Linked DNA regions of Homo sapiens. The gene in region 3 interacts genetically with the main gene of each other region. Each region holds a gene or a part of one and is shown on either strand. Other genes may lie near its edges.

Evidence for each region. A genetic interaction does not mean that the proteins touch.
Region 1: changes in MRPL22 (region 3) and ARGLU1 together harm fitness more than expected from each alone (negative genetic interaction), as found in Homo sapiens cells (one large-scale study listed by BioGRID).
Region 2: changes in MRPL22 (region 3) and PGD together harm fitness more than expected from each alone (negative genetic interaction), as found in Homo sapiens cells (one large-scale study listed by BioGRID).
Region 4: changes in MRPL22 (region 3) and SEH1L together harm fitness more than expected from each alone (negative genetic interaction), as found in Homo sapiens cells (one large-scale study listed by BioGRID).

What each region holds. Positions count from the first base shown.
Region 1 is NC_000013.11:106,557,879-106,562,413, reverse strand, and holds part of ARGLU1 (arginine and glutamate-rich protein 1), read left to right. Parts: intron 1-2,756; coding exon 2,757-2,982; intron 2,983-4,535. UniProt on the Homo sapiens protein: Dual function regulator of gene expression; regulator of transcription and modulator of alternative splicing. General coactivator of nuclear receptor-induced gene expression, including genes activated by the glucocorticoid receptor NR3C1.
Region 2 is NC_000001.11:10,397,148-10,402,122, forward strand, and holds the start of PGD (6-phosphogluconate dehydrogenase, decarboxylating), read left to right. Parts: upstream 1-1,916; 5' UTR 1,917-1,970; coding exon 1,971-1,978; exon of another isoform or gene 1,979-2,183; intron 2,184-2,481; coding exon 2,482-2,557; intron 2,558-3,245; coding exon 3,246-3,425; intron 3,426-4,975. UniProt on the Homo sapiens protein: Catalyzes the oxidative decarboxylation of 6-phosphogluconate to ribulose 5-phosphate and CO(2), with concomitant reduction of NADP to NADPH.
Region 3 is NC_000005.10:154,957,372-154,961,906, forward strand, and holds part of MRPL22 (large ribosomal subunit protein uL22m), read left to right. Parts: intron 1-2,608; coding exon 2,609-2,678; intron 2,679-4,535.
Region 4 is NC_000018.10:12,981,735-12,986,269, forward strand, and holds part of SEH1L (nucleoporin SEH1), read left to right. Parts: intron 1-783; coding exon 784-941; intron 942-2,305; coding exon 2,306-2,456; intron 2,457-3,505; coding exon of another isoform or gene 3,506-3,518; exon of another isoform or gene 3,519-4,535. UniProt on the Homo sapiens protein: Component of the Nup107-160 subcomplex of the nuclear pore complex (NPC). The Nup107-160 subcomplex is required for the assembly of a functional NPC.

The sequences.
Region 1 (4,535 bases), on a different chromosome or scaffold from region 3:
AATAGTGGTTTTATCATTGATTATGATGATAAATTTGCCATCAGTAAAGATGAACTCATGCTTAATTCAGTTGTATATGTGCTCACTGGTTTGCTGAATTCAGTGTATGGTGAGGGGATAAAATTGAGCTTTCCTTCAGCATTGTTTCTAAAATTTGATTTAAAATTTTTTTCTGATTACTGAAGTAGCATTTTTAATTTTACCAAGAAAAACAGCAGAAATTATATTCTTGCTAACACTTGCAGGCAAACAGTTTTGCTGTGGTACCCTGAACCCTGCCTGTTGCAAAGCTTCATTTTCATATTGGGATGCCTTGCAGTTCCTCCAGGAACAAAGGGAGATAAGCAGCTTTGTGAGAAACTGCACTAGGTCATTTCTCATTCTCCAGTGTTTCAGTTGAGCGTGGGACTTTCCACTTGCCCTCCCTTTGGGCTATAAAGTCGCTGAGCTGTAGTTAGAATTGACTCCTTAGCAGCGGAGCAGCCCACGGCCTGCCTGTACTGCCTGTTACATGGGCCCTCTGGTTTGATGTCATCAGTGGAAATAGAAGCAGGGAACTGACATTCTGATTTGGCATTTGCTGTAAGTAAATTTATTTGGCTCATTTTCTCCTTACTGACCAAAGCTATGGAAATGAGGCCCTGTTAGCCACTGCGCTTTTGCTGAGGGATGGCTTGACTGCCAAAAATAACCTTGAGTGTGTATCAGGTCTCTTCTGCCTTCACCAAATTCTTAAGATGGCAACTTTTTACTCCTAGGGCCTTCTTTCTACTTTGTGTGGAATTTTAATTGGAACTGTGTTACATTATCCTTTTTTTTAATAGTCGGTACTATGATCCACCTAGTATTGTTAATTAAAAGTCACATTGTACCGGTTTTGAAATTTTAAATATTAAGTTTCTTCTTAGGCTTCTCTACATTTACTAATTTCAGAAGAACCAACTAGCAAAAGTGTGTGTGTGTGTGTGTGTGTGTGTGTGTGTGTGTGTACACTTTATTATGAGAAATTTACATATTCACAAAGGCAGATTATTATTATTATTCTTGGGTACTCATTATCCAGATTCAACAGTTGTCAGCCTTGTTTCATTGATTAGTTTTCTTTCCTTTTGGGTGAAGTAGAGAAACAACATTTTATATGGAAATGTGATTTAATTTCTATTGAAGTTGCTGTCTGGTTTCCTTTTATATGCTCCCAGTGATTGATTTTTTTTAGTATTGGGGAAGATACCTGCTCTCTCACTGAGCTGCTGTAGATAAAGACTTCAAACAACAAAGTCCTGAGAATGAGTGTTGGGCAAACATCTAGGCCCTTAAAGGAAAATATTCTTTCTCTAGTACCTACTGTCTCCTTGACAGAAGAATGTAGAGGATAAATGTAGAAACTGAAATGAATCAGATTAAGACACATTGGTGTTAGTGTGTTATCACTGAATAAGTAACAGGAGTTGAAAATGAGAGCCCTTGGGTGAGAATTGAATCATCCCGAAGAATAGAGTTGAGTTGAAGTGGATTGGGGTATTTAAAGGTCACTTAGAAACTATAAAGTCTTTACTAAACAGATAAATTGAATGATTCTCATATATATGGATGTCAAATGAGTGATCAAAAGATAAAGGTTGCAGGTTTTATTTAATTTTGAGAAAGTTGGAACATGAATCGTCCTCTTAGGATTGAGATTTACTGCAAGAGCCTCAGAATTTATTCATTCAGCACAAATTATTGTCTCAGTGCTATTAACTAGAAATAGTATGAACAATATATGCAATGTAAAATTTTTTTAGTAACCTTAAGAAATGGATGAAATTAATTTTATTGTATATTTTTATCCAAAATATCATTTTAACACGCAATCAAATAAAAATAGGAGATCATTTATATTCTTTTTCTTCATACTAAATTTCAGTTTGGACCAGACACATATGACTGGTGGCTGTCACTGAATATCATTGGTATGAAATGTGCAGGATTTCCAGTGGTGCCTTGATGAATGTCAGTAATTTCAGCACAGAATTTTATTTTGAGTAAATTGGTTTATAATATCAAAATGGGATTGGAGTAATTAAAACTGTAGTATCATGCTTTATTGAACTTTTTCTGGTAATAAAAATATATTTTTACCCACTTTCCCATTTCTAGAGGAGCTTTTAATTGAAAATTAACAAAAGGAAGAAAAGACATAGTAAGGAACTATAAAGCTAAAGAACTTCAGTTCAAAACTTAAGTTGGTCATATTTTCAGTAAAAACTACGCACTATTAGTCCAGCAATCTGAATCTCTTCAATCTGTATTTATTCTCTCTTTGCTTAGCGGGAAATCAATTCAGCCAATCTGAGTTGCCTGCTACATAATTTCTCCTTCTCTGTAGCTCAGCCCCAGACGAAGTGATTGGCAAATGAGCAAATCCATATGTTTTAACAACTTGTCCTCTGATTATAAAGTCAATAACAGAATAGGTTTTCTGTCCGGATTTATTGTTCCTAAATTAGAACTAATGAATTAGGCTCTTTGTATATACCTGTTCTCCTGTATTTAGAATATGATAAAGGAAAAAAAGATTTTATACTCATTTGAATTTCTGTATCAGTTAACATCTTGGTATCTGTCATTTCCTCAAATGTGACATGGAAATGAATTCTGAAAAAATCACTGAATAATATCAGGCTCAATGGCTTGATAGACTTAAAACTAGTTTTGTTTAAATTTATAGTTTTAAAAGTAAATACCTAACTTGTTTTTTTCACTTTGTTTGCTAGTCGACAGCAAGAAATAGAAGAAAAACTCATCGAGGAAGAAACAGCACGAAGAGTAGAAGAATTGGTAGCAAAAAGGGTGGAGGAAGAACTGGAGAAAAGGAAGGATGAAATTGAACGAGAAGTTCTCCGAAGGGTGGAGGAAGCCAAACGCATCATGGAAAAGCAGTTGCTCGAAGAACTCGAGCGACAGAGACAAGCTGAGCTTGCCGCACAAAAAGCTAGAGAGGTAACGCTCGGTCGTTTGGAAAGTAGAGACAGTCCATGGCAAAACTTTCAGTGTTGGGTTCTGCCTCCTGCTCAGTTCAGAAAGAGATGGAATACAGACTATCTAATTCCTTTCTCGTCTAAACTTAACATTGCTGCGAAAGTTAATTTTTTAGCCTATTCAGAAGTGCTGACTGATAACTTAAAAGTTGGAAGCTTTTATAAAACATATTCAAGGATACTTTTTGATTTAATGGAACTGGCTATTTGAGAAGTGTTTGAAACTTTTGCCATGGCTGCAGGACTTACATTCTTTTTTGGGAGGACGGTGGGGAGACAGGGAGTGGTAAAGGGAAAAGGTTAAAAATCCACCTGTGGTTGTATATTCTTCTATTCTGTCACTCTGTTACCTAGACTGTGAGAGGCTTTTGCCTTCAGTCAGATTAAAAAGAGCAGGGCCTAACATTGAGTGATAGCACCTGCTTTGATAAATAGGTTTTCTCACTCTTCTTTTTTTCCTTCTTTTATCCCTCACTCCCTCCCCTAAACCCTGCTTCAGCACAATGGACTAATTCTAGCATTCTGATCATAAGGCCCTCCATTTTCCTAATGTGTTTCAAGGAATCTTTTTAGGAAAAATATCCAGATTATTCATCCACTTTTTTTAGTATCTACTAACAACTCCTTTTTTTCTCTAGAGAGTTATGAAGGAACAGGTTGTCCTTGTCTGGAGTCAAGCTAAACACATGATTTGTTTTATCAGCAGCTGGAGCAGAAGTTGAAAATGTCTTTCTGTGAGACAGTAATTTGCTACTGAAGCTTTATGGCTTGTTTGCACTGATTACTCCAGGATCCAAAAACTTGGTGAAAGTCACTGAAACACTCAAGGCAAATTACTTTACAGCCCTGAGTGTCTGTCACCATAGTTTGCATAATGAATATGAATCCCATTGGTGTGTGATGTAGGAAATCCTGTAGTTGTATTTTCTTGAACTGAAATATTTGACTCAAAATAATTAAGACTCATTGTCATTTTTCATCTTGGCATTATTGTGGACAAGTTGACATATTAAATCTCTTTGCTTTCTGGTAAGCTTAGCTTTTAAAATGCATTTTCCCTTGTCCTGTCTTTAACTAGATATACATGCTTATATTTATAGTGGGTTTCACAGACTATAAAATTGAATGTATGAAATTTTTATTTATATCAGTGCTTTTAATAATGAAGATATTTTTGGAGTAATGGTGCTGTCTTGTAGCGAGTTATTAATCATAGTAAGATTTTTTTCTCTTCATTTGCTTTTTTTGTTTCATATTAACAATTTTTTTTTTACACGGACACAACCCTCTGACAGTCTTTCCAAATATTAAAATCATTTGAATATGTATGCTGTGATCTGAACACTGCTCAAGCCATCAAGCAGTCTTCATACAGTTTGCATTATAAAATCTCATTAAATTCTCCAAGAAAAAATAAGTTGAAGAATTTTATTTCCTGACCATGCATCCCCTGGATTTCTGAGTTTCAGTTCAGATTGTAGATGACAATATAAGCTGCCTTCCGAAATTGTCAAC
Region 2 (4,975 bases), on a different chromosome or scaffold from region 3:
AGAAGCCAGACCAAAAAAATTATATGCTATTATTCCATTTCTATGAAATTTCTGGAAAAGGCAAAAACCATGCAAAGTAGATCAGAGGTTGGCTGGGGGTGAGAGCAGAGACTGACTACAAATAGGCCCAAGGGAACGTTTTGGGGTGATGGAAGTTTTCTATAAGTGGATTATGGTGATGGCTACACAACAGTATAAATTAAAGGTCATCCAAATGTGTACTTACAATGTTTGAATTGTATGACATGTAAATTATCTCATTAAATCTGTATTTTAAAAAAAGAACTGTGCTGTGAAGTTTGACATATTTTAAAGTAGGATGTCTTAGCCGGGCATGGTGTTGCATGCCTGTAGTCCTAGCTACTCAGGAAGTTGAGGCTAGAAGATTGCTCGACCTCAGGAGTTCAAGGCTGCAGTAAGCTATGGTCATGCCACTGCACTCCAGCCTGGGCAACAGAGCAAAGACCTGGTCTTTATAAAAATTAAAAACCGGCCGGGCACAGTGGCTCACACCTCTAATCCCAGAACTTTGGGAGGCTGAGGTGGGTGGATCACTTGAGGTTAGGAGTTCGAGACCAGCCTGGCCAACATGGTGAAACCCTGTCTCTACTAAAAATAAAAACATTAGCTGGGCATGGTGGCACACACCTGTAGTCCCAGCTACTTGGGAGGCTGAGGCAGGAGAATCGCTTGAACCTGGGAGGTGGAGGTTGCAGTGAGCCCAGATCGCGCCACTGCCCTCCAGCCTGGAGACACAGCCAGACTCCATCTCAACAATGACATCAAAAAAAGGCCGGGCACGGTGGCTCACGCCGGTAATCTCAGCACTTTGGGAGGCCAAGGCGGGCGGATCACGAGGTCAGGAGTTTGAGACCAGCCTGGCCAAGATGGTGAAACCCCATCTCTACTAAAAATACAAAAATTAGCTGGGCGTGGTGGCGGGCGCCTGTAATCCCAGCTACTTGGGAGGCTGAGGCAGGAAAATTGCTTGAACCCGGGAGGCGGAAGGTGCAGTGAGCTGAGATCACACCACTGCATTCCAGCCCGGGCGACAGTGCGAGACTCCGTCTCAAAAAAAACAAAAAAAATCTAAAACTCAAACTTCTGAATAACAATTTCCTCCTAGCAAGAAGGGACTCAGTAAGATAAGAAGCGCTGCTTGGCTACTTTGCAAATGTCTGGCTTAAGATGGCTGGTTTTTTGTATCTGCCTCTGCATTTAACCTGGTCCATCTCGCGGGTCACATAGCCTCTACAAAATGAGAAGGGGTTCAATACCGTTAACTCCGGGCCTGGGTAAAAGACTCAAGTCCTGACCCCATCATACTCCAACCAATACATACCCCGCCTGCGCTGTCTGCGCCTGGGTCTCTTCAACCGCAGTGAGCGGTCGCACGGCTCCACATCAGGGTCGCCCTGAGGCTCAGCCTTCCCCGGCCCCATTCCGAGTGCGCACAGGACTGAACGAGCACGCCCGGTCCCTGCTCCGGAGCGGAGGACACGACGCGGACCCGCACGGTGCACCGCAGTGACCTGAGGAAGGAGCGACGGGCGCTCGCGCCAAAGGCGTCCGAGTGCCTGGTAAACTGTAAAGCGCGGTCCTGCGTGAGTTGCTATGGCTACAGCTGCGCCAGGCGGACGGCCTGCAGGACCGAGGTGCAGCTGGGACGAGCGGAAAGCTCTGCGCGTGGGCGGGGAGCCCGGAGCCTCGCCGGGGCAATGTCATCTAGGTGCTCGGCGCTCCACTGATCCGGCCCCCGGGGGTGGGCGGGCACGTTTGCCTCGGATGGTCTAACAGGCGTCGGGGAGAGCCAATGGTGTGGCTTCATGGCTCCACCCCCTTCCATTCGATTGGCCGGCGCCGAAAAGCCGGGCGTGAGCGGCCGCAGTTTCTGGAGGGAGCCGCTGCGGGTCTTTCCCTCACTCGTCCTCCGCGCGTCGCCGCTCTTCGGTTCTGCTCTGTCCGCCGCCATGGCCCAGTGAGTGACTCGCCAGGGGCAGCCCGGCTCGGCCTCAGCGGGCGGGGAACTCTTTGGGGGTCGAGATCTCCCTCGTTCTCTCCGACGCCTCCCACCCTGGGGGTCGCCTGAGCTCACTTGGGGCTCTGTGACCCTGGCCCTACGGCGTCTCGGGCCCAGAGCTCCTTCCCTGCGGGCCCGGCCCCCTGCCCTCTCGGCCGCGCAGGCATGGGGCGGGGCGGGTCCCTTCGAGGGCCAGGGAGGAGGCGCGGCCAGGCCTCGCCGAGTCTGCAGGGACACCTGCGGGACGCGTGCCAGCGGGAGCCGGGCGCGAGGGCGGGGCTGGGGGCCGCCTGCCCGGCCGAGGCTCTGCAGCGTGCGCGCCCGGCTTCTGGGGGCCCGCGGGAGGCGCGGAGGAAAGTGCAGACTCCCAGTCACGGCCAAATGTGGAAGGACCGGACCCCTGGGTTGCAGCGCGTCGAGCGGTGCTGACTCTTTCCTTTGTTCTGTTTCTGCCTCTCTAGAGCTGACATCGCGCTGATCGGATTGGCCGTCATGGGCCAGAACTTAATTCTGAACATGAATGACCACGGCTTTGTGGTAAGCGGCGTGGGCGCGTTGTCTTCTCTCTGGTTCCCGGGCGCTTTAGCCGAGGCCGGCGATAGGTTTGGGAGCTTACGGGTCTCCTGGCCGTGCTTTGCTAATGTGCTCTGTTGCTGCTCGTGGCATTTTTGTATGGAAAGGAGAAGCACCCTGTAGGCGTGGGCGGGCCGATCCCGAACTTAGTCCTGCGGAGTGTGCCTGTGGGTCCGTGAGGTTCACAGCCCGAATGAACGAATTAGTGTCTTAAGTAGAGAAGAAGGGTGCGGGAGGAGAACCCTTGCTGGCTGTGTAGAGCTCTAACTTGATTGCCTGATGAGATCTGGGGAGAGTGAAAATGTTTCTTCTAAATGTTAAAGTGGCTTAGACGCCAGGATGATCAATAACAACAGATAGAGCCTGTTGAACCGGCCAGTTCCTGGATTTGATTTTGAGTCCTAACACGTTGGGTGTGGATTCTACCTGACACACCGGGGGTAGTTGGCCTTCGCCTCGGTTGTCCGCCGTTTTCATCCTACTGAGGTGACATAACTTTACAGTGAGCCTCCCACAGCTGGGGGAAGAAAAGGCAAAGGCAGGTCTGACCTCCCCAGAACTTGGGTTGAATGGAAAGGTCATTGTTACTTTGGCCACAGTCTGAAAGTCTTGTGTGTCCTGGATCTCCTACTCAGGACTTTTGTCCTTCTAGGTCTGTGCTTTTAATAGGACTGTCTCCAAAGTTGATGATTTCTTGGCCAATGAGGCAAAGGGAACCAAAGTGGTGGGTGCCCAGTCCCTGAAAGAGATGGTCTCCAAGCTGAAGAAGCCCCGGCGGATCATCCTCCTGGTGAAGGCTGGGCAAGCTGTGGATGATTTCATCGAGAAATTGGTGAGGCCAGCTGTGCTCTCAGCTGCTACCACGATAGCAGCTGTTTTTGGTTTCTTCCTTTAGTTCTCCTTCTTTTAACTCTAGAGATTTTTTTTTTTCAATTTCTGCTAAGCTCTGACCAAATGATTGCTTAACTGTTGCAGTGTTGGTTAACTTGATAAGCGCTTATGAAGTAACTTTGTCCTTTGGTGGTAGTAATTCTGAGAATACTAACAGACATTTCAATAAACATTAAGGCGGGGCACAGTGGCTCAGGCCTGTAATCCCAGCACTTTTTGGGAGGCTGGTTCAGATGGATCGTTTGAGCCCAGGAGTTCGAGACCAGCCTGGGCAACATGGCGAAACCCTGTCTCTACATAAAATTAAAAAATTAGCTGGGTATGGTGGTGTAAGCTTATGGTCCCAGCTACAAGCTTATGGTCCCAGGTTCGAGACCAGCCTGGCCAACATGGTGAAACCCCGTCTCTACTAAAAATATAAAAATTAGCTGGGCTTTGTGGCTCATGCCTGTAATCCCAGTTACTCGGGAGGCTGAGGAATGAGAATCACTTGAACCTGGGAGGTGGAGGTTACAGTGACCTGAGATTGTGCCACTCCAGTTTGGCGACAGAGCGAGACTCCGTCTCAAAAAAAAAATGAAAATAAAATCAAGATCTCCTTAGGGAATCCTAGGGAACTGGATGCTTATTTTTGTACCAAACAATTTGTTGGCTTTAGCAGGTATATCTTTTTTGGAAGAAAAAAGTAGGGGAACCAGTGGAAATAATGTGTTTAGATACCCAAAATAATTCTATAGTAACAACTCTGAAAAAACCCAGGCACTCCCATTTAGAAGAAATGTTTTGCTGTAAGCAGTGCAGTGATAGCTCAGGGGAGGCTGAGCATTCCTTTCTAGAGGAGTCGTGTCAACAGTGGGGTTGTTTCCACAGGGAGAAGGATTTGTAACCAGTATGCCACTGTTTTTCAATCAAATGACCTAGAAAGGAAGAACACTGAGTTTAAAAAAAGGACATACTAAATTTTTTGTGTGGCAAGCTGCCTGTAATCAGTTTCAGACAGAGAAAACTGAAAAATGGTGGATTATTCTTCAGTATAGGAAAATACTAAGTAATGTTAACTGGAGCCTTGTAGGGGGAAGATTGAATAATATAATGAAGCCCAGGCTGGGCGCGGTGGCTCACGCCTGTAATCCCAGCACTTTGGGAGGCAGAGGTGGGTGGATCATGAGGTCAGGAGATCGAGACCATCCTAGCTAACACGGTGAAACCCCATCTCTACTAAAAATACAAAAAATTAGCCAGGCGTGGTGGTGGGTGCCTGTAGTCCCAGCTACTTGGGAGGCTGAGGCAGGAGAGTGGCGTGAACCCGGGAGGCAGAGCTTGCAGTGAGCCGAGATCACACCACTGCATTGCAGCCTGGGTGACAGTGCGAGACTCCGTCTCAAATAAATAAATAAATTAATTAATTAATTAATAAAGTAATAATAATAATAAAGCCCAGCCTGGTTGGTGTGCTGTAGGTAGATATTCATGTTCAAGGCTCTGTCTCTT
Region 3 (4,535 bases):
TATGTGTATACTTTAGGAATGTTGTGTGCTTTAGGGTTTATTTCCTGAGGTGCTTTTATTTCCACCAAATATTTATCTGTTTTTTACTGCTTATGATGTGATGAATCTTATTTTTAATGATTTGGGGCTTGGTACGTATATGTGTGTATTTGTGTGTATGTATGTGTGTTTGTGTATATAATTTATTTCTTGGAGCAAGGCTGAACTTCAAGGTATATTTTTTTGAAGATTTTTTTTTTCCTATAAAGGAGAGTTTTTATAACTAAGTAATTTTGTAACTAAATGGAAAGAGCCCTGGACTGGAACTCAAGAGACTTGGACTCTAGTCCTTTCTCTGATCTTTTTCTTGTGACCGTGGGCAAGACACTTAACCAGTCAGTTTCTATTTTTCTCACCTAAACTATGTGGAATTGGATTAGATGACCCCTAAAGATCCTTCCAACTCTAAATGTAGCTAATTCACTAGATACAAATGTGCTGATGGTAATTGTGGTGACTCTTTCTAGGAACATGAATATTCTTTTTTTATTACATATATTTTTCTTTTTTTTTTTTTTTTTTTTGAGACGGAGTCTAGCTCTGTTGCACAGGCTGGGGTGCAGTGGCGCCATCTTGGCTCACTGCAGTCTCCGCCTCCTGCGTTCAAGCGATTCTTCTGCCTCAGCCTCCCGAGTAGCTGGGACTACAGCTGCGCGCCACCATACGCGGCTAATATTTTTGTATTTTTAGTAGAGATGGGATTTCACCATATTGGCCAGGCTGGTCTTGAACTCCTGACCTCAGGCGATCCGCCCACCTCAGCCTCCCAAAGTGCTGGGATTACAGGCGTGAGCCACCGCGCCTGGCCTATTTTTCTTTTTTAATATTCTTTTTTCAAAAAGTTGTATTGATTATTGTCCGTTACCATCTGGGGCTATCAGCATTGTTTTCTATATATTCAGTTAATTCTCACCAAAAGTCAGTTCATACCTTTCAGTTTAGTAGTAATAGGTAAATAGTTGAGATTGATAGATTCAGACTTCTAAAGGGTTCCTTTGTAATGCTTTGATTTTGCTATATTCAATTCAGAATGCATTTACAAGTGTTTGTTGTGTACCCAGCCTTGTACTACATTCTTTATCTTTTAAGGCGTGAAAGATTTGGTTTCTGTTATTTCTGACAATTGTCTTTTTTTTTTTTTTTTTTTTTTTTGAGATGGAGCCTCGCCCTGTCGCCCAGGCTGGAGTACAGTGGCGCCATCTCCGCTCACTGTAAACTCCACCTCCTGGGTTCAAGCGATTCTACTACCTCAGCCTACCGAGTAGCTGGGACTACAGATGTGTGCCACCACGTCCAGCTAATATTTTTGTATTTTTAGTAGAGATGGGATTTCACCATGTTGGCCAGGATGGTCTCAATCTCTTGACCTCATGATCTGCCCACCTCGGCCTGCCAAAGTGCTGGGATTACAGGCGAGAGCCACTATGCCTGGCCCAATTGTCATATTTTTACAAAAATGTGTTCTGGAGGAAGTTAATTCAAAATATCTATGGAGAGTAAATTTGATAATTAACCTCTTCAAGGAAATTATTATATCAAGTGTGATTTTCTCTACTTGTCTGATGTTAATGGTTATTTGCATCCAAAGTTTAAGAATTTTTATTTTATTCTAGTTTTTAATTAGATTTTTGTTTTTTTAGAGGCAGGGTGTCACTCCATTGCCCAGGGCTGGAGTATAGTGGCATGATCACAGCTCACTGCAGCTTTAACTTCCTGAGCTCAAGGGATTTTCGTCCTTCAGCTTCCCAAATAGCTGGAACTGCAGGTGTGTGCCACCACGTCCAGCAAATTTTTCACTTTTGTAGAGATGGGCTGGTCTCGAACTCCTGGCCTCAAGGGATCCTCCTGCCTCAGCCTCCCAAAGTGCTGGGATTATAAGCATGAGCCACCATCCCAGCTAAGACTTTTCAGTAAGATTAAGCTATTGAGTTTCATGAACTTCGTGTTTGTTTTTTAAGATAGGGTCTCTGTTGCCCAGGCTGGAGTGCAGTGGTACAATCTTGGCTCACTGCAGCCTCCACCTCCTGGGTTCAAGTGATCCTCCAGCCTCAGCCTTCCACATAGCTAGGATTAGAGGTATGTGTTACCACACCTGGCTGATTTTTGTGTTTTTAGTAGAGGCGGGGTTTTGACATGTTTGCCAGGCTGGTCTCAAACTCCTGGCCTCATGTGGTCTGCCCATCCCATCTTGGCCTCCCGAAGTACTGGGACCATGGACATGTGAACCACTGCATCTGGCCTTGGGAACTTTTTGACAAGTTTCTGACTCAAAGACATAATGTTCCTTCCCAAGGGTACTGCTTACAAGCACCGCTATCTCCTTTATAGCTTACACATGTCATTTAAAACTTAGTAGGATGGGCTGTGTTCTATGCATTTACACTTCTTGGTCTAAGGCAGGAAAGCTCCCTTCTCCTTTGTACTCTTATCATTTGATATTGTCTTTTTAAAATTGACTATGGAAGCATGTGATTAGCAGTCATAGTACAGAGATAATGAGAGATGAGAAACTTAATTCCATTTTACTTCAGGTTTAGCCGTATAAATGCTTTTCTTTTTCTTATTTAAGGTTCTCTTAGAAGCACAAGATATGGCAGTGAGAGACCATAACGTGGAATTCAGGTCCAATTTATATATAGGTAAGATTTTTAATATTCTTAGCATTAGAAAATGTCTTCAGTAGTAATGCCATGTTTTTTATCTAACAACAGTCTTTAATATCTAACTCCTCAGGACTTGGTTTGTCAGTGAAAATTGCTAGTAATGGCTTATTCTTCAGCTGTATGCATGCCAATTTTAATTTAGTGTAAATGACAATAACTGTACTGTTTTACCTGTTCTGTAGTGAGACTGAGATCATAAAGCCAATTGCTAATAATTATTAAATAATAGATACCAAGACTGGGGTACATAGAGTGGTACTTTAATTGTAATATTATAACAAATAGTATTAACACATTTTTAAAGTTGTTTGTCAACCAGAAGGAGGTAAATAATCACAGGTGCATTTAAAAAATTTTTATTTATAATGTGCCAAGCCAGATGCCTAATCCATAAAGGTGTCCTGTAATTTAACCTTACAGTTATCAAAATGGAAGGTCTGTTGAATTGTAAAAGCCAAGGGGCCTTGGAAGGCTCAGATGACCCAGATGTGTTTGTTCCACTTTGTTACTACATCCTGAAGCATTAGCTCTGCTTTTACATGCTTGTTCCACATCAAATTAAATTAATATAAGTTAAAATGCTTTGGGAAGCATGATGTGCTGTACAAATGTAAGGAATCTTTTTGCTGCAGACCGTCACACAGTTATTTTCTGAGAAGGAGATTAATGTTTATTACAAAGCTCTCTTGCCTCCTCCCAACACCATGGGAAAGTGGAGCAGTGGTTGGAGTTATTATTTTTTTCTCACTACAGCAATTACTCCTAACCTCAGCAGTTTTATATTCAAACAAAGATGTTGATGTTGAAGCAAAGTTTTCTCAATCTGCCATACCAACATATAAAGATTATTTTACTTAAAGCTATTTTAAATTCAAGATATGGGGAACATCTACTCTCCAGATGGAGGAGAAAGGGCTGAATCAATACAGGGGGAATTAGTTGTATTTTATAATTTTTCAACAATTAGAGTAAAAAAAAAATTATCTAAATTCTACTTTTTCACATAGCCTCTGTGCTGATTAGGTTAAAATCTCAGTTCAACTCACCTGGCATTGATGTTGGCCACCACACCTCCTGAAATTCAAATTAGTTGATTTTCAGTTGAAATGCTTTATTTTAAAGCTGAATCTTGTATAATTTTATTTTGATACATGCAAAGATGCAAAGGGAAATCAAAATGGCAACCCAAGATGCAGGGCCATGGTAGTTAATCATAAGCATTTTCTTCTGGGAGCATTATGAATAAATAATGTTGGAGAGGTCTTGGAACCATTGGAAGGGATGAGGAGCAAGACCATTTGCTTAAAACCTCTTGGTGATTCTTCCTGCTCTGTGACTCTGAATATCAAATCAAATTTAATTAATTTTATGCAGTTTCACAGGGATGTGAGATTCGTAGCTGATAGACTTTCTAATGGACTTCAGATACAAATGAAATATGATTTGTCTTTAAGCCTTTTTCAATAACTGTCTTTAAATCCTTTTCAATAATTATAGTAAAGAGAGATAGGATAAAGAGCTTAATCCTGTTGCTCCAAATGAAGGAGCAGGGTCCACTGTTGCCATTAAGCAAAAACATGCTTAACCAATCCTACATAAATGACCCTTTATTTTATCTTTTTTTATTTTTGGAGATGAGGACTTGCTCTGTCACTCAGGCTGGAGTGCAGTGGTGTGATCACAGCTCACTGCAGCTTTGAACTCCTGGTCTCAAGTCATCTTCCTGCCCCAGCCTCCTGAGTAGCTGGGACTAGAGGCACGTACGAGCACACTTAGCTAATTTTAAAATTTTTTGTAGAGACAGAGGTCTCGCTTAGATGCCTATGCTGGTCT
Region 4 (4,535 bases), on a different chromosome or scaffold from region 3:
ACTAAATTAGTATTGAGACAGTCTTGTGAATAACATATTTAACTTTAATTTTGAATTGTGAATTTCAGTTCTTTTCTTTCCATTCTTTCATTCTTTCCTACTTGCTGCCCTGCCCATTTTTTTTTTTTTTTTTTTTTTTTTTTGAGGCAAGGTCTCACTCCGTTGCCCAGGCTGGAGGGCAGTGGCTTGATCTTGGCTCACTGCAACCTCCACCTCCCAGGTTCAAGCAATTCTCATGCCTCAGCCTCCTGAGTAGCTGGGACTACAGGCGCCCGCCACCATGCCTGGCTAATTTTTTATTTTGTATTTTTAGTAGGGATGGGGTTTCGCCATGTTGGCCAGGCTGGTCTTGAACTCCTGGCCTCAAGTGATCTGTCCACCTTGGCCTCCCAAAGTGCTGCGATTACAGGTGTGAGCAACTGCACCTGGCCTTGCCCTGCCTTTTTAAATTAATTATTGTCATCTATTTTATTCTTCTGCCTTGTGTGGGAGAATAAAATCATCCTGTTTTGTTGTTTCTTTCTTCCATGAAACAGTCACTGAGTATCATTTATGTGCTGGGATCACTCCAGGTCTTGGCGAGTTAAATGAAAATGACATTGGCCCAGCTCAAGGGCCAAGGTGTGGGGTTTGGGCAGATGTGCACATTATTATAAAGTGATGTGGTGGCGAGACCACTTGTATTAATTTAGAATTTTACGTGTGTATATATATATGTGTGTGTATATATATATGTTTTAAAACTTTGTTTGGAATGCCTCAGAAAATGTTTTTTATTAACAGGAAAGAACTGACTTCCTCTGGTGGGCCAACAAAGTTTGAAATCCATATAGTGGCTCAGTTCGATAATCATAATTCTCAGGTCTGGCGAGTGAGTTGGAATATAACAGGAACGGTGCTAGCATCTTCAGGAGATGATGGGTGTGTAAGATTGTGGAAAGGTAAGAGTTCAGTGAAGGGGTAATTGTTGGTTTATATTTCTGCTCTGCAATTTTTACTTAAAATGTAAACTCTGAAATATTTTTTGAAAATGGTCTTTTACAGTTACTTTTAATGTCATATTAATTTATGTTATTTTGAACATCAGTTTACCTAGTTCATAGAAGTTAATGACTGAATTGTTTTTTAAGTTATGTGGAACAGAGCAGTTTTCAAAACTAAAGTAATTACAACAGAATATGCAATATCTCCAATAAAAAGATACCAGTTGTCATATATGTACCTTACATGACTGCTCTACAAACTCAGGCTAGGACTGTAGTGGCTCCTTTTTTATCAAATAAATTGCTTTAGACAATCCATCCTTAATAGGAGAAAATCCAGTATCTTCCCTGCTTCTTCTCTGCAGCTCCCATAAGTTAAGAGCCTTGGGGGCCCTGATTGTAAGTTTCTTCTAAGTGCCAGGCTGAGTGAGAAGGTCTGGTCAGTTGACACTGACTGTGGTCTCTGTAGCTTGGTTCTGCACTTCTCCTTGGATGATTATCCATTAGGCAGAGATGTCTGTGATTTGTGCACCACCATAGAATGGTGTCCCATACTTAGCATTCAGAATTATAGCTATCTTTGTTTATTTGCCATTTAGCAGTTATTGTTTCCCAAAGTGCAGTTTGGGTAAGCTTGAGGGCCTCCCATGTTCAATTTTGGGCTTTGGTAAAACCAGCCCAGACCTTCCTTTCCTCAGTGTAATTTGATTTTAGGGGCTTTGCTGTCCTTTTCTGCCTTTAGGCTTTATTCAGGACCACCTTGCCATGCTCCCCAGCAGGGTGCCTAACTTGATTTTCTTGGGCTCATTGTCTTCAGAGACCAATTTTTCATTCAAACTAATAAGGCCATTTTGGATAAGCCACTGAAGCTCCAAAGGTTTTGTTACCTACATCCATTTCAGAAGACATGATAGGTACCCTTATAACTTATACTTGCATAATTAAGAAGACAACTTCATTACCTTACATACATATGTAAGTGAAATTCATTATAATGAAGACTTTAATATTATAATGAAGATTTTAATATTAACTTCATAATGTGGTAGCTCAGAGAATTGTCTTTGCTAGTATCTGTAAGATGGGTGGTGAAAGCTTTATATTTTTAAAATTAGTGATACTTTGAAAACTTCTAAAAAGTTGTTAAAACTGAGATAATATGTCTTTCATTTAAAAAGTGTCTTTAATGTTTATCCTGAAAGAAATGTAGCTCATAGCCTCTGTCTCGTTTCTTTAATTGTAGTTTAAGGACATGGGTACAGATTTGTGCCCTTAGGCATTGGTATTAATCATGTTAATGTATTTGATTATTTTCCTTTCAGCTAATTATATGGACAATTGGAAGTGTACTGGTATTTTGAAAGGTAATGGGAGCCCAGTCAATGGGAGTTCTCAGCAGGGAACCTCAAATCCTTCCCTAGGTTCAACTATTCCAAGTCTTCAGAATTCATTAAATGGATCTTCTGCTGGCAGGTAGGCTGCTTCATGGGAAAACTGGAAATCATCTTTGTTTTAAATCATTCTGGTAGCCATACTTAAGGTGGATTATTTCATGGATTATAAGATGGAGTGGAAATGTTCACATGTGCTTGTATTAGCATTTAAGAATTCATTTTGTTAGCTATGTATTTGGCTTACTTGGTCATAATATTTGCAGGTAGGTTATGAAGTCATTACATTATATTCTGAAGCTTTAGTGGTCTATTGGTAGAAATGTTTACAGGTTTAAGATTCAACTTTGCTTCCGCAACAGTGAGAGGAAGGTTATCTGGTTTAATGGTGAGAGTTTTAGTCCAAATGAACATTAGTGTTTTTTAGTGCTTGTAGTGTGGTCTTTGCATTAGGTCAAACTGAAATTTTAAATAAAATACATTTCTTAAGGCTTTCTAGAAGAGGGTACATTAAGTTATTTGGCTTTTGTGTTTAAAACTTTAATAGAAATAAGAGGAAATAATAAAACACGAGATTGATTTTTAGAATATTTAGCATATGTTACATTCTTGTATATCATAATAAGGAATATTTGATGTCATCTAGAGTCTGTTTCCATGTTCAAATTTTAAATATGTGAATTTGTAAGATAAAATTATTTTAATATGCCTTTGTGAATAATTTGGAATAGAATTCAGGAAACGTCAAAACACAGCCTAATGAATTGTCCTGTGGTTATATCCTCTTGTTATCCTATATAAAAGAAGAAAATTGTATTTAAAATTTCAACTATTTTTATATTGTTATGTTTTCATAAAGAAGTTCTGCTTTTGATTTTGAGGTTTTAAGTACATGCATCAAAACAATTTCAGGTTACCGTGGAAGATACCAGATTATAAAGATTATTTCATGAAACAAATAATATTAGAGTTGATTTTTTAAAGTCTGGTTTTTGGTCACTGCCTGTACTGCATATTTTCTTTTGTAAATAGCTTCTATTTTTTGATCTGTATTCTTATTGTGCCAATAACCATCTGTGTTAGATCTGTGATGCATTTTCCCTTTTCCATTTGTATTATGTCCTTTAACAGAAAGCACAGCTGAGTACAAGCTAACTGGAGTAACTTTGCTGTTTTGCTGCTTGTTGCATGCACACAGGAATGGAAAGCGAGCTCCTTTTCCCCTTCCCCAGCGCCGTTTGACCTCTCCCAAGATACACCAGCAGCCTGCTTACTACTAAACGCAATCCAAAAGGCCTTTAAAAATACAGTGTATATTTTTTGTACTAGTCAGTTTATTGACACTATTTGAAACTTTTGAAATATAAACGGAGAGGCTTTCTGTTGAGACATTGTCACCAAAACAATTTTTTGAAATGTTCCTGAAACTAATTTGGGTTTAAAGATTAAAAGGGTTGTTACCATTCTTATCTGAGTAGTTGGGAGGAGGGGAATACCACTTTAGTTCATTTGGAAAATATAGACATATTTCTTTTGCTTTCTTAAAACAGCTTAAAATGATGAACTTTTATAATTTTAATTTGAAGATTGAATAAATATTTTTTATAAAGATTGTTTTGAGTGCTGATTTGTTTACTTTTTGTAGATTTGCTTTATCCATGATATTCAGTACAACTCTGTCATTTCTTTGTAATATTTAAAAAATATTAGTAAAGGAGTGAATTAATAAAGTAGTAATAGTAAAATGAAAGGAACTTGACTGTACAGTTTGTAGCCAGGTTAAGCATTTGGTATTGTTTCATTTACAATTTGGGACTAAGATGGAAACACTTTTTTTATAAGTTTTTAATTCATAGTCACTAAAGAGATAAATGTTTCTTATATACATTTGTGTATTTTTATGGTGTTATTTATTCCATGGCTTAGCTTCCTTCAAATCAAAATTTGGACACACACTATTAAGAGAAGCCATTAAAATTTTACTAAAATTGTGCATGTAAATTAATTGTCAGCATTCCATGTCTCAAGATTTTCTTAATTTAGTTCGCTGTTTAAATTAATTCATGTCCTGTAAAGTTCTGACCTTGATAACAAAGCTATAAATATTTAAGTTTGCTAATATGCGTAAGTATTATCGGTAAGTTACAAGATGGAAGAAGAA